Homo sapiens: one gene and its partners. The protein of the gene in region 1 interacts with the protein of each later gene in a biochemical or structural test. Each region holds a gene or a part of one and is shown on either strand. Other genes may lie near its edges. The genes, in order: STK4, SIRT1 and MAP1LC3B.

Region 1 (3,673 bases):
CTCAGTCAGGAGAGTCGCTTGAACCCCAGGGGCGGAGGTTGCAGTGAGCCAAGATTGTGCCTCTTCACTCCAGCCTGGGCAGAAGATCAAAACTCTTTCTCAAAAAAAAAAAAAAAATCCTTCTTTTGCTAAAGCATAGGAACTGTAGGGAGGTTCTCTTTCAGTAGGGCCATGCCATCCTGAGAAAGTATGCAAGTGGTTATTTGCTGTAATGTGTACTGTATCCACATATTCTTCTTTAGCCCATAAACTAAGATATTTTGTATATTATTTTTTATATATCAAGTTTAAAATTTTTTTATTGCACATGTATGCTCATATAAACCTTCAGAATGTTACAGATGTATACAGGATAGACAGTAAAAATCTTTAGTGATTCTGCCTACTAGATATAATTAATGGTTTGGTGTGTATTACTCCAGATTTTTTGTGCTATGATATAACAGTGTTTCATATTATTGGTTATTGTTTTATTATTGTTATGATCATCATTATTATATATATTTTCCTTTTACAAAAACAGGGCTATATTATATATAATTGTACAACTTTTTTTTGCTTTGTAATGTATGTTGTGCATTTTTTTCATGCTAGGAAAAGGTATATATCTTCTTTTTTTTTTCTTTTTAATATGGTGTTTCAGTATATGGTTATTTATTATATTTAACTTACTATCTTTTGATGATCATTTGAGTTGTTTCCTTTTCCTCCTCATCTCCCCCATTACAGACATTTCTACAGTCTTTGTGCATATCGTTTGAGATACTTGAACATAAGATAGATTTCAAGAAATAGATTTGGATCAAAGGATATGAATATTTAAAAGTTGAATAAATATTGCCAACTTATGTACTAAAATGTACCAATTTATACTACAGTAACATTTTATTTCGGTGCCTGATTTTCTATGCTATTATCAGCATTAATTATTAATTTAAAATTTTTTGTCAGTCATTTTAGTTTTTGTTTTAATAATTGATTGAGAATCTTTTTGTGTTTCTTTGTCATTTGAATTTCTTCTATGCCTGCTTGATCATGCTCAGAGTATGGTTTTTATATGTATTTCAAGTACAAGGCATTTTTTTATTGTTGGAAAAGCCTCTTTTTCTCAGTAGTTTTTTTTTTTTTCTTCTTTTTTTCTCTGTAGACTTCCTCTGTGGACATCTCAGTAGTTTTAAGCTTAGTGTCAGTCTCTCTCCCTTTCTATTTTAGGATACCATGGCCAAGCGGAATACAGTGATAGGAACACCATTTTGGATGGCTCCAGAAGTGATTCAGGAAATTGGATACAACTGTGTAGCAGACATCTGGTCCCTGGGAATAACTGCCATAGAAATGGCTGAAGGAAAGCCCCCTTATGCTGATATCCATCCAATGAGGGTAAGAAAGTGGACAGAAAGCCAGTGGGGTGGTTAGTTACTGATCATCATTAAAAAGTGAAGTTCAAGCCAGGTGTTGTGGCTCACACGTGTAATCCCAGCACTTTGGGAGGCTGAGGTGGATGGATCACCAGAGGTCAGGAGTTTGAGACCAACCTGGCCAACATGGTGAAACCTTGTCTCTACTAAAAATACAAAAATTAGCTGGGTGTGGTGGCGTGCGCCTGTAATCCCAGCTGCTTGGGAGACTGAGGCATGAGAATCACTTGAACCCCAGAGGCAGAGGTTGCAGTGAGCTGAGATCGTGACACTGTACTCTAGCCTGGGAGAGAGAGTGAGACTCCATCTCAAAAAAAAAAAAAAAAAAAAAAAAGTTCAATGGCTTACTTGTTTAAGTTGCAAACAATAAATGAATTATGTGTAAATTTGTAAGTGTCGCTATAGATGATACACCTCTACTGACTCTAGTTGTAGTCATTAATTAATTTAAGTGTGTTCCACCCCTCTCCATTCCAGAGGTTGTGTATTGATAGCCCTCTGGCAGGACATAGGCCATAGAAATGCTTAGTTTGATTTGTGCTACTCTCTCTCTCTGTCTGTCACTCACTCATTTTGAATAGTTTAGACAACCACATTTTAACATGTCAACATTCACTAGAGCTGAGTAGTGGTTCAGAGTATGAACTCTCTACTTTATCAGTCTCCATGATTCCCTGTTGTGTCACCAAGTATTAGCTGCCACTTATTACAGTATTTCTCTAATGTTTTTCTTATAATAGTGTTAAGAAGAAAGCAAACTGTATTTTTGAACTCATGTCACTGAAACCCAGCCTTGTTCATTTTTTATCTTTCTTCTGCCTGGCCCCTATAGGTGTTTTGAATTTGTAAGTTTTGGTTTGTAGATCCCCATATCCTCTTCATCTGGAGGCTGTGTACTCTCCAACCCCTGTCTCCTTCTAGAATGTTAAGGGCCCATAGAATGCATCTCCAGTGAAGCTCTTCCAGTGCTCACACCCTAAGCAGTTCCCAGGCTTAACTGTCCCAGAACCCTTCATCACAGCACTGTTGTAATACACCCCCCCGCCAACCCTGCCTTCCTCAGGGGCTCTGTGGTCCTCTCCATCCTTCCTTACCACAGCTCTTCCTCTTCTCTGACTAATTAATTCTCCTATTAAAAGACTTACACAAATTCATGTTCCCAAGGTAAGTCCTCCCTCTTTTTTGGGAGAAGGAGTGAGGAGATTTACTAGTTACAATTTTAGATTTAAAGAATATAATTTAAGCTGCTTATTTGTATAGTGTTTTACTTTTCAAAAAACATGGCTTTTTTAAAATTGGAAATTTAATAAATAATAGTCTTATTTTTGGACATAGTAGAATGTAACTGCAACGTAGTGGGCCAATTTTTAATTTTTCCCCCTCACACATGCGTTGATTTAGCTTACTTTGGAAGTTAATGACCCCATTGTGATTTTTGGGACTTCTGGTTGATGACCTTATTGTGTAGTTGCTGCTGACATCTGGGGGTGGTAATAACTTTTAAGAGGCAGGGAAACTTGACAACTATGGGGTCAAGGTTATCTTTAGGATGTAGATACTCTTAGGTCTCGCCTTTCTACTTTGAAAGGCAATGTACTGTGGTTACCAAAATAATAATAATAAAAAAGCTTGATTGATGTTGTGAGGTTTAGGGAACAAGACCCATATATGAGAGAGGGAAAAGGAGAGAGGGAGATATATCAGGTTCTTTAACCATCAGATGCTTAGACTTTTGTTGGAATTTGGGTGAGCTTCTCAGTGGGTAAGTGAAAAATCATTTACCAAGCTTCAAATGTAATTCCACATGTATTTTTTATTGGAGCATTACTTTTATTTTACCAGATCTTTTTGTTTGTTTGTTTGTTCTAACCAGGCAATCTTCATGATTCCTACAAATCCTCCTCCCACATTCCGAAAACCAGAGCTATGGTCAGATAACTTTACAGATTTTGTGAAACAGTGTCTTGTAAAGAGCCCTGAGCAGAGGGCCACAGCCACTCAGCTCCTGCAGGTATGAATCACCCTGTGATGCCATCTCGCTCCATTTCATTTACTTGCTGACCAAAAGATGCCATGAGGTCACCTACGTGGAGATAGTAAAGAAGTATAAGGCAGGCTGGGTGCAGTGGCTCACGCCTGTAATCGTAGCACTTTGGGAGGCTGAGGCAGGTATATTGCTTGAGCCCAGGAGTTTGAGGCCAGCCAGCATGGTGAAACCATGTCTCTACAAAAAGAATGCAAAAAATTAGCCAGGT
Region 2 (3,623 bases), on another chromosome or scaffold:
CCAGAAATATGTCCTGTGTGCTTAGCAATATATGGAGGTAATCATGTCATTACGAAAGAGGAAGAATAGTATATTAAAATGGAGTCATTGGTCGGGTGCAGTGGCTCATGCTTGTAATCCCAGCACTTTGGGAGGACGAGGTGGGTCGATCATTTGAGGTCAGAAGTGAGACCAGCCTGGCCAACATGGCAAAACCCCGTCTCTCTTAAAAATACAAAAATTAGCCTGGCATGGTGGCATATGCCTTTAATCTCAGCTGCTTGGGAGGCTGAGGCAGGAGAATTATTTGAACTCGGGAGGTGGAGGTTGTAGTGAGCTGAGATCATGCCACTTCACTCCAGGCTGGGCAACAGAACAAGACTCCATCTCAAATAAATAAAATGGAATCATTTTATTTGACAAATGTCTATTTTTTTTTGAAAGGATCAATTCCCATTTAGTGTATATACACACATTATGTTTTTCCTCTTAATATATGATGGACTCTTCAATGTCAAGTGTTTTTCTACATAGATATTATAACAAGAGCATAGTATTTCATTGTTTCATAGTATGTTAATAAACTACCCATCATTGACAGTTGCTGTTTATCCATAGCTTTTCTGTTTTGTTTTTTTTTTAATAATTCTGAAATGTATTCTTAGAGGTATGGAAATGTTGACTATTTCTAACTTGGGCTTACTCTTTGCTTCTCTACCTCAACCAAAATCTGAAAATATGTAGGTAGTTCCTCGATGTCCTAGGTGCCCAGCTGATGAACCGCTTGCTATCATGAAACCAGAGATTGTGTTTTTTGGTGAAAATTTACCAGAACAGTTTCATAGAGCCATGAAGTATGACAAAGATGAAGTTGACCTCCTCATTGTTATTGGGTCTTCCCTCAAAGTAAGACCAGTAGCACTAATTCCAAGTAAGTTGGTGATGGTTTTTGGAGAACATTTCTATATATAATGTCATGGGTTGTGGGTCTGTATAATAGACGCTAGTAATCTTAACTCTGCTTCTGTTTGAAAGAGTGGTGAAGAGCTAATTTTAGAAATTGTTTGTTTGTTTGTTTATTGAGATGGAGTTTCCCTCTTGTTGCCCAGGCTGGAGTGCAGTCGCATATCTTGGCTCACTGCAACCTCCGCCTCCCGGGTTCAAGCGATTCTTCTGCCTCAGCCTTCTGAGTAGCTGGGATCACAGGCGTCCACCAACATGCCTGGCTAGTTTTTGTATTTTTAGTATAGACCGGGTTTCACCATGTTGGCCAGGCTGGTCTCGAACTCCTCAGCTCAGGTGATCCGCCTGTCTCTGCCTTCTAAAGTGCTGGGATTACAGGCATGAGCCCCCATGCCTGGCCAGAAATTCTTTATTTTTAGTAGAGATGAGGTCTTGTTGTGTTGCCCAGGCTGGATTCGAACTCCTGGGCTCAAGTGATCCTCCTGCCTCAGCCCCTTGAGTAGCTAGGATTACAGGCACGAGCCTCCACATCTGGCTGAACTGTTTTTTTAGGTGGCATTGTTCATTGAGACTGGTGAATCTGACATTTTGATGGGGGGTGGAGGGTTGTCAAAACGCAAGTAATGTTGGTGGCTCGTGCCTGTAATCTCAGCACTTTGGGAGGCCGAGGTAGGTGGATCGCTTGAGGGCAGCAGTTTGAGACCAGCCTGGCCAACATGGTGAAACCCTGTCTCTACTAAAAATACAAAAATTAGCTGGGCATAGTGGTGTGCACATGTAGTCCCAGCTACTTGGGAGGTTGGGGCATGAGAATCGCTTGAACTCAGGAGGCAGAGGTTGCAATGAGCCGAGAATGTGCCACTGCACTCCAGCCTGGGTGACAGAGTGGGACTCTGTCTCAAAAAATCAAAAACAAACCCAGAAGTAATGCTAAACTCTACTTCTAATTTATGTGAAAAATTAAGACAAAGGTAGAGTTCAACTTAGACTTTTTGGTGGAATGTGTTTTTAATGTTGCAAGGGTTAGCATCAATTAATTTATGAAATGGTCCTTTATCCTTATATTTTTTGATTACAGTTTTGATCTTTCAAATTTAATTGATTTCACATTTAATAAATTCAAATGTATAGTTTGGTAGAAGTGTAACATACCATGTAAGATGGAATTTGGGGGCTCAGAATGATTGGTTCATTCTTGTAGTAACAGCCATGCCATAACGGTGATATGTCGATATAGTTTACCCAAAAGGGTGTGTATATAAAAGTGTTCACATAAAATTTAAATCCTTATTACTCTCAGGAAAATTTCTTTGTCATATATATTCTCATACTGTCTGTTTCCTCCTCTAGTTTAGAATCAGAGGAGGAGAGAGAGAGATTTCAGTTGCATCAGATGTGTCCTTTCATAAGTGAGGGAAAGAGGAGAGGAAAAATATTAAATCCCTAGCCAGAGAATTGAATTAGACCCCACATCAGCAGTCAAGGCAGCCAGAGTAAACAGTTGGAAGAAACATGGAGTCAAGCTCTTCAATTTTGTGTCTATCCCATATCTCGTGGCTTTAGCAGTTAACTCAGTCTTACCTAATTAGCTGTGAAATTCTGTTAAAGTAGAATACAAGACAATTTGCAATTAAATGAAACATGAAAATTTAATATACAAATCTCTTTGTTCTTGAGTTGCTCTTCTTAAAGCAAAATCAAAGGCACTCTGCTTAAAAGCTTTTCTTTTTATTTTTTAGAGACGGGTGTCTTGCTGTAGCTCAGGCTAGAGTGCAGTGGTGCAGTTTCAGCTCACTGCAGCCTTCAACTCCTGGGGACAAGCAGTCCTTCCACTTCAGCTTCCTGAGTAGTTAGGACCAGAGGCGCACACCATGCTTGGCAAATTTTTAAATTTTTTTTTGTAGAAACGGGATTCACTTTGTTGCCCAGGCTGGTCACAAACTCCTGGCCTCAAGTGATCCTTCCTCCTCTGCCTCTCAAAGCATTAGGATTACAGGCATGAGCTACCATGCCTGGTCCTTAAAAACTTTTCTTTCAAAAGCTTTCTGTGGGATAGTATGATGTGTTGCAAAGATAATTAAAAAAAGAAACAGGTTTATAATAGCGTAGAATATGTTTATATGACTTTTTCCCTCCCCCCCTCCCCTCCCTCCCTCCCTTCCGTTTGTCCTTCCTTCCATTCATCCTTCCTTCTGTTAGTCCTTCCTTCTGTCCATCCTTCCCGTCCGTTCTTCCTTCCTTCCTTCGTCCATCCTTCTGTCTGTCCTTCCTTCCGTTCATCTGTCCGTCCTTCCTTCCTCCCACCCTCCCTCCCTCCCTCCTATCCTCCCTCCCTCCCTCATTGCCCAGGCTGGAGTGCAATGGCATGATCTCGGCTCACTGCAGTCTCCCGTGTTCAAGCAGTTCTCCTCCCAAGTAGTTGGGATTAGAGGCATGCGCTACCACACGCCCGGCTAATTTTGTGTTTTTAGTAGAGATGGGGTTTCACCATGTTGGTCGGGTTGGTCTTGAACTCCTGACCTCAGGTGATCCGCCTGCCTCGGCCTCCCAAAGTGCTGGGATTACAGGCGTGAGCCACTGTACCCAGCTCACCTTCTTTATATCAGGAGCTACTTAAGTAGAACATTTATGTACCAAGAACTCTTCTGTGCACTTGACTAACTCATTTAATCCTCACCACA
Region 3 (3,112 bases), on another chromosome or scaffold:
CTGGTGATGTCAGGGAAGTGAGTGGGGCTACAGCACCCACGGGGAGCTCCGAAGACGGGACAAGGGACGCAGACGCTTCTATTGAGCAGCTGGCCTGGGAAGGCAGTTTTCTCAGGTCACTCCCTTGTATTTTTCAACAGACTTTTAGGTGCCTACTTAAACGGGAGCTGGGCTCAGAGTTCCCTAGATGATGAGGTTGGCCACTTTTTGTCTGGTCTGAGTGCTGAAGTGTGTGTGTGCTGCATCTGTACACGATGCCAGCAGCTCCCCACTGGGTCCCCCAAGGGTACACTTTCTCGACCACACACACATACCTAATAAATACTTATGGTGGTGGGTGGTTTACAGCAGTAGGTTGTTGGGTGTTATAGTCCCACAAAACATGTAGGTCAATTCGCATCCATCCTGATAGCCCGTGGCACGTGAGTTCTCAAGAGGACTTGGCTTTGTAAAGGCCAGACCTGGTGGCAGGGCCTTGGCCAAGGTGGAGGGTGCCCTTGACAAGGCAGAGGCCCTCGGAGGGCAATGCTCATCCACGTGAGTGCCCCCTCTGCACGAGAGGACCAGCCTGGATGCCCCTCCTTGGAAATACAAGGACCCGCTTGGCTTTGGAAAGTACAAACAGTGTGGGATCCAAGTCTCAAATACGGAATCCCATTAAACTGGGCTTTGATGACAGTTTTTAATTGTGCCTTTATTCAACTTAGTTCATTAAAAATGTTTTAAAGATCCTATAAATAAAGTGACCACTCACATGGGATATAGGTCACCCCTCAGCATGTTATTTTTTTTCTTAAAAAGCAGTATTTCTTACAGGAATCTTACTGATCACACGGTAGTTACAATAATGTCAGATATGATGTATACAGTCTAAACGAGACAGTCCAGTTAAGAATATACATAATGTAAAAATACACATATTAAAAGTTAGCCAAGTGGACAGACGCATGCGGGGGTGGGGGGAGCAGGTGACAGGAACTCCTTTAACAATCAGTAGAGGGCCCAGATGCAAAGAATCTGGTTTTCCCCGTTACAGTAAACAGCTTTCACTAACGTATACAGGTATTTCATACACATCTAAACACACAAGGGTAAGTTGTGACCTGCTACACATAGGGTCTAAAGTGGTGTAATTGTGATTTTCCTGTGATACTCCCAAGAAAACTATAAATAGTGAACCCCATGCAAGTACTGGGAAGCACTAGTCTTTTATCACAGGTTGAACCTGAGGAGGTTTAACTCTTGACATTAGTATCTGTAAAGAGCGTACGGCTCTTTTTGCTATGTTTTCTCCACAACTGACATGCACTTGGTGTGGGAGAATTCTGATGGCTGTCTGACCTAAGAGTGATAACTACTATTCAAAATGTGGGTACCTTTTCAGTAATACTGAGTTACACATTTAACATTAAAAAAACAAAAACGTGGATCATCCACAGCTTTAAGCCGGAAGGCAGAAGGGAGTGTGTCTGAATGTTAATGTTTTCAGTTATACTATTTTGTGTTTCTCCCGCTGTACTCCAGAGTGACACTGGTACACTGCTGCTTTCCGTAACAACACAGGCACTAGTTTGAACTCAGACAAAACCTGAAACAGAAGAAATGCCACTCTTTCTCCAGGGTCTTTTAAGAAACTCGATCAAAATTATAAATTATTCAAGTTTCCTTTTGAGTGGTGTCTTTATGTGTGTAACTATCTAGAGAACAAACCAAACCAGAAATGTCTACCCCTGCAAGAGTGAGGACTTTGGGTGTGGTTCTCTTAGGAGTCAGGGACCTTCAGCAGTTTACAGTCAGGGCCGTTTTCTCACACAGCCCGTTTACCCTGCGTTTGTGCCAACTGTGATGGCAAATGCGTTTTGCGGGGGTTGCGCTTCACAACTCAGGCCTAAAGATCCTCTTAGGGAGATCTCTCTAGCTGAGTAGAAAACTTCTACCCAAAAAGGCGGCGGGTTTTGTGAACCTGAAGAGAAGACTCAGGGTCTCTCTGAAAGCCTTTAAATTACTGCTGGAATTACAAGTTCCTATTAGTGAGAAAAGAGCATTAAAATAACTTGAAGGTCTATTTTATTGGCAACTTAGAATGCAAAGTATTTTATTTTTAAACTTTTAAAATTTGAAAACAAGCTAGCCTACATTAAATAATATAGTTTCCAAAGCTGAATGTGCTCACTTGGAGCTCAGTTTTTCTGCTTGAAACACAAACACAACTTCCTAACACTCCTAGGTGGGAACACTACTGTTTCATGATCTGTGATTGGATGAACTGATCGATCTCAGTTGGTAACATCCCTTTTTTTTCCTTGGTAAGGGTTTAAACAATTCTAGAAGAGCTGCATTTTTTCTGGTTTTACACTGACAATTTCATCCCGAACGTCTCCTGGGAGGCATAGACCATGTACAGGAATCCATCTTCATCTTTCTCACTCTCATACACCTCTGAGATTGGTGTGGAGACGCTGACCATGCTGTGTCCGTTCACCAACAGGAAGAAGGCCTGATTAGCATTGAGCTGTAAGCGCCTTCTATTGAAAGAAAACAACGTGAAGAAATATTGACAACAATACAAGAAGGATGAAGCATGTGTTAAAATATCACCCACTCTGATCGGTAAAATATAAAAATGTTCTAAATGCTCTTGAATCCAATACTTCTCATAAAGCACAGGACACTTCCTTTGATTATATTGACATGAGCTATAATCACTGAAAGATTACATATTAGGCTGATTTTAAACTAGTATACTGTCTGAACAGCTGTTAAACTGTCTAATATAAGAAAGCAGTTCAAATACAGTTTCTGAACTATTCTAAGATCTAAGCCTGTGCCATTTACTGCCACTCACAGAGTCTACATTCTCTTTAACTAGCTTTGCTGTACAATACCTTAATAACTTGTAACACTGATTTTAAACAGGAAACATCTAAACGATGTTATGATGAAAGAAACGGGCTCTGCAGTCTAGCAAGTAATATAAAACCTCAAAAAAAGAAACATTTTATAGTTTAAGTTGAAATTGTTTTAATCATAACTGAATCAGAACTGAATTCAGCTGAAAAATATTTTTTAAAGATTTTAACCAGAACTAAAGATTTAACTGTAAGTTTCATAA

Evidence for each region.
Region 2: of the proteins of STK4 (region 1) and SIRT1, one has a biochemical effect on the other in vitro, tested with the Homo sapiens proteins (one study listed by BioGRID).
Region 3: the proteins of STK4 (region 1) and MAP1LC3B form a complex in vitro, tested with the Homo sapiens proteins (2 studies listed by BioGRID and IntAct, with this or other methods).

Annotation. Positions count from the first base shown.
Region 1 is NC_000020.11:44,993,878-44,997,550, forward strand, and holds part of STK4 (serine/threonine-protein kinase 4), read left to right. Parts: intron 1-1,212; coding exon 1,213-1,380; intron 1,381-3,291; coding exon 3,292-3,429; intron 3,430-3,673. UniProt on the Homo sapiens protein: Stress-activated, pro-apoptotic kinase which, following caspase-cleavage, enters the nucleus and induces chromatin condensation followed by internucleosomal DNA fragmentation.
Region 2 is NC_000010.11:67,908,533-67,912,155, forward strand, and holds part of SIRT1 (NAD-dependent protein deacetylase sirtuin-1), read left to right. Parts: intron 1-723; coding exon 724-910; intron 911-3,623. UniProt on the Homo sapiens protein: NAD-dependent protein deacetylase that links transcriptional regulation directly to intracellular energetics and participates in the coordination of several separated cellular functions such as cell cycle, response to DNA damage, metabolism, apoptosis and autophagy.
Region 3 is NC_000016.10:87,402,336-87,405,447, reverse strand, and holds the end of MAP1LC3B (microtubule-associated protein 1 light chain 3 beta), read right to left. Parts: intron 2,526-3,112; coding exon 2,351-2,525; 3' UTR 674-2,350; downstream 1-673.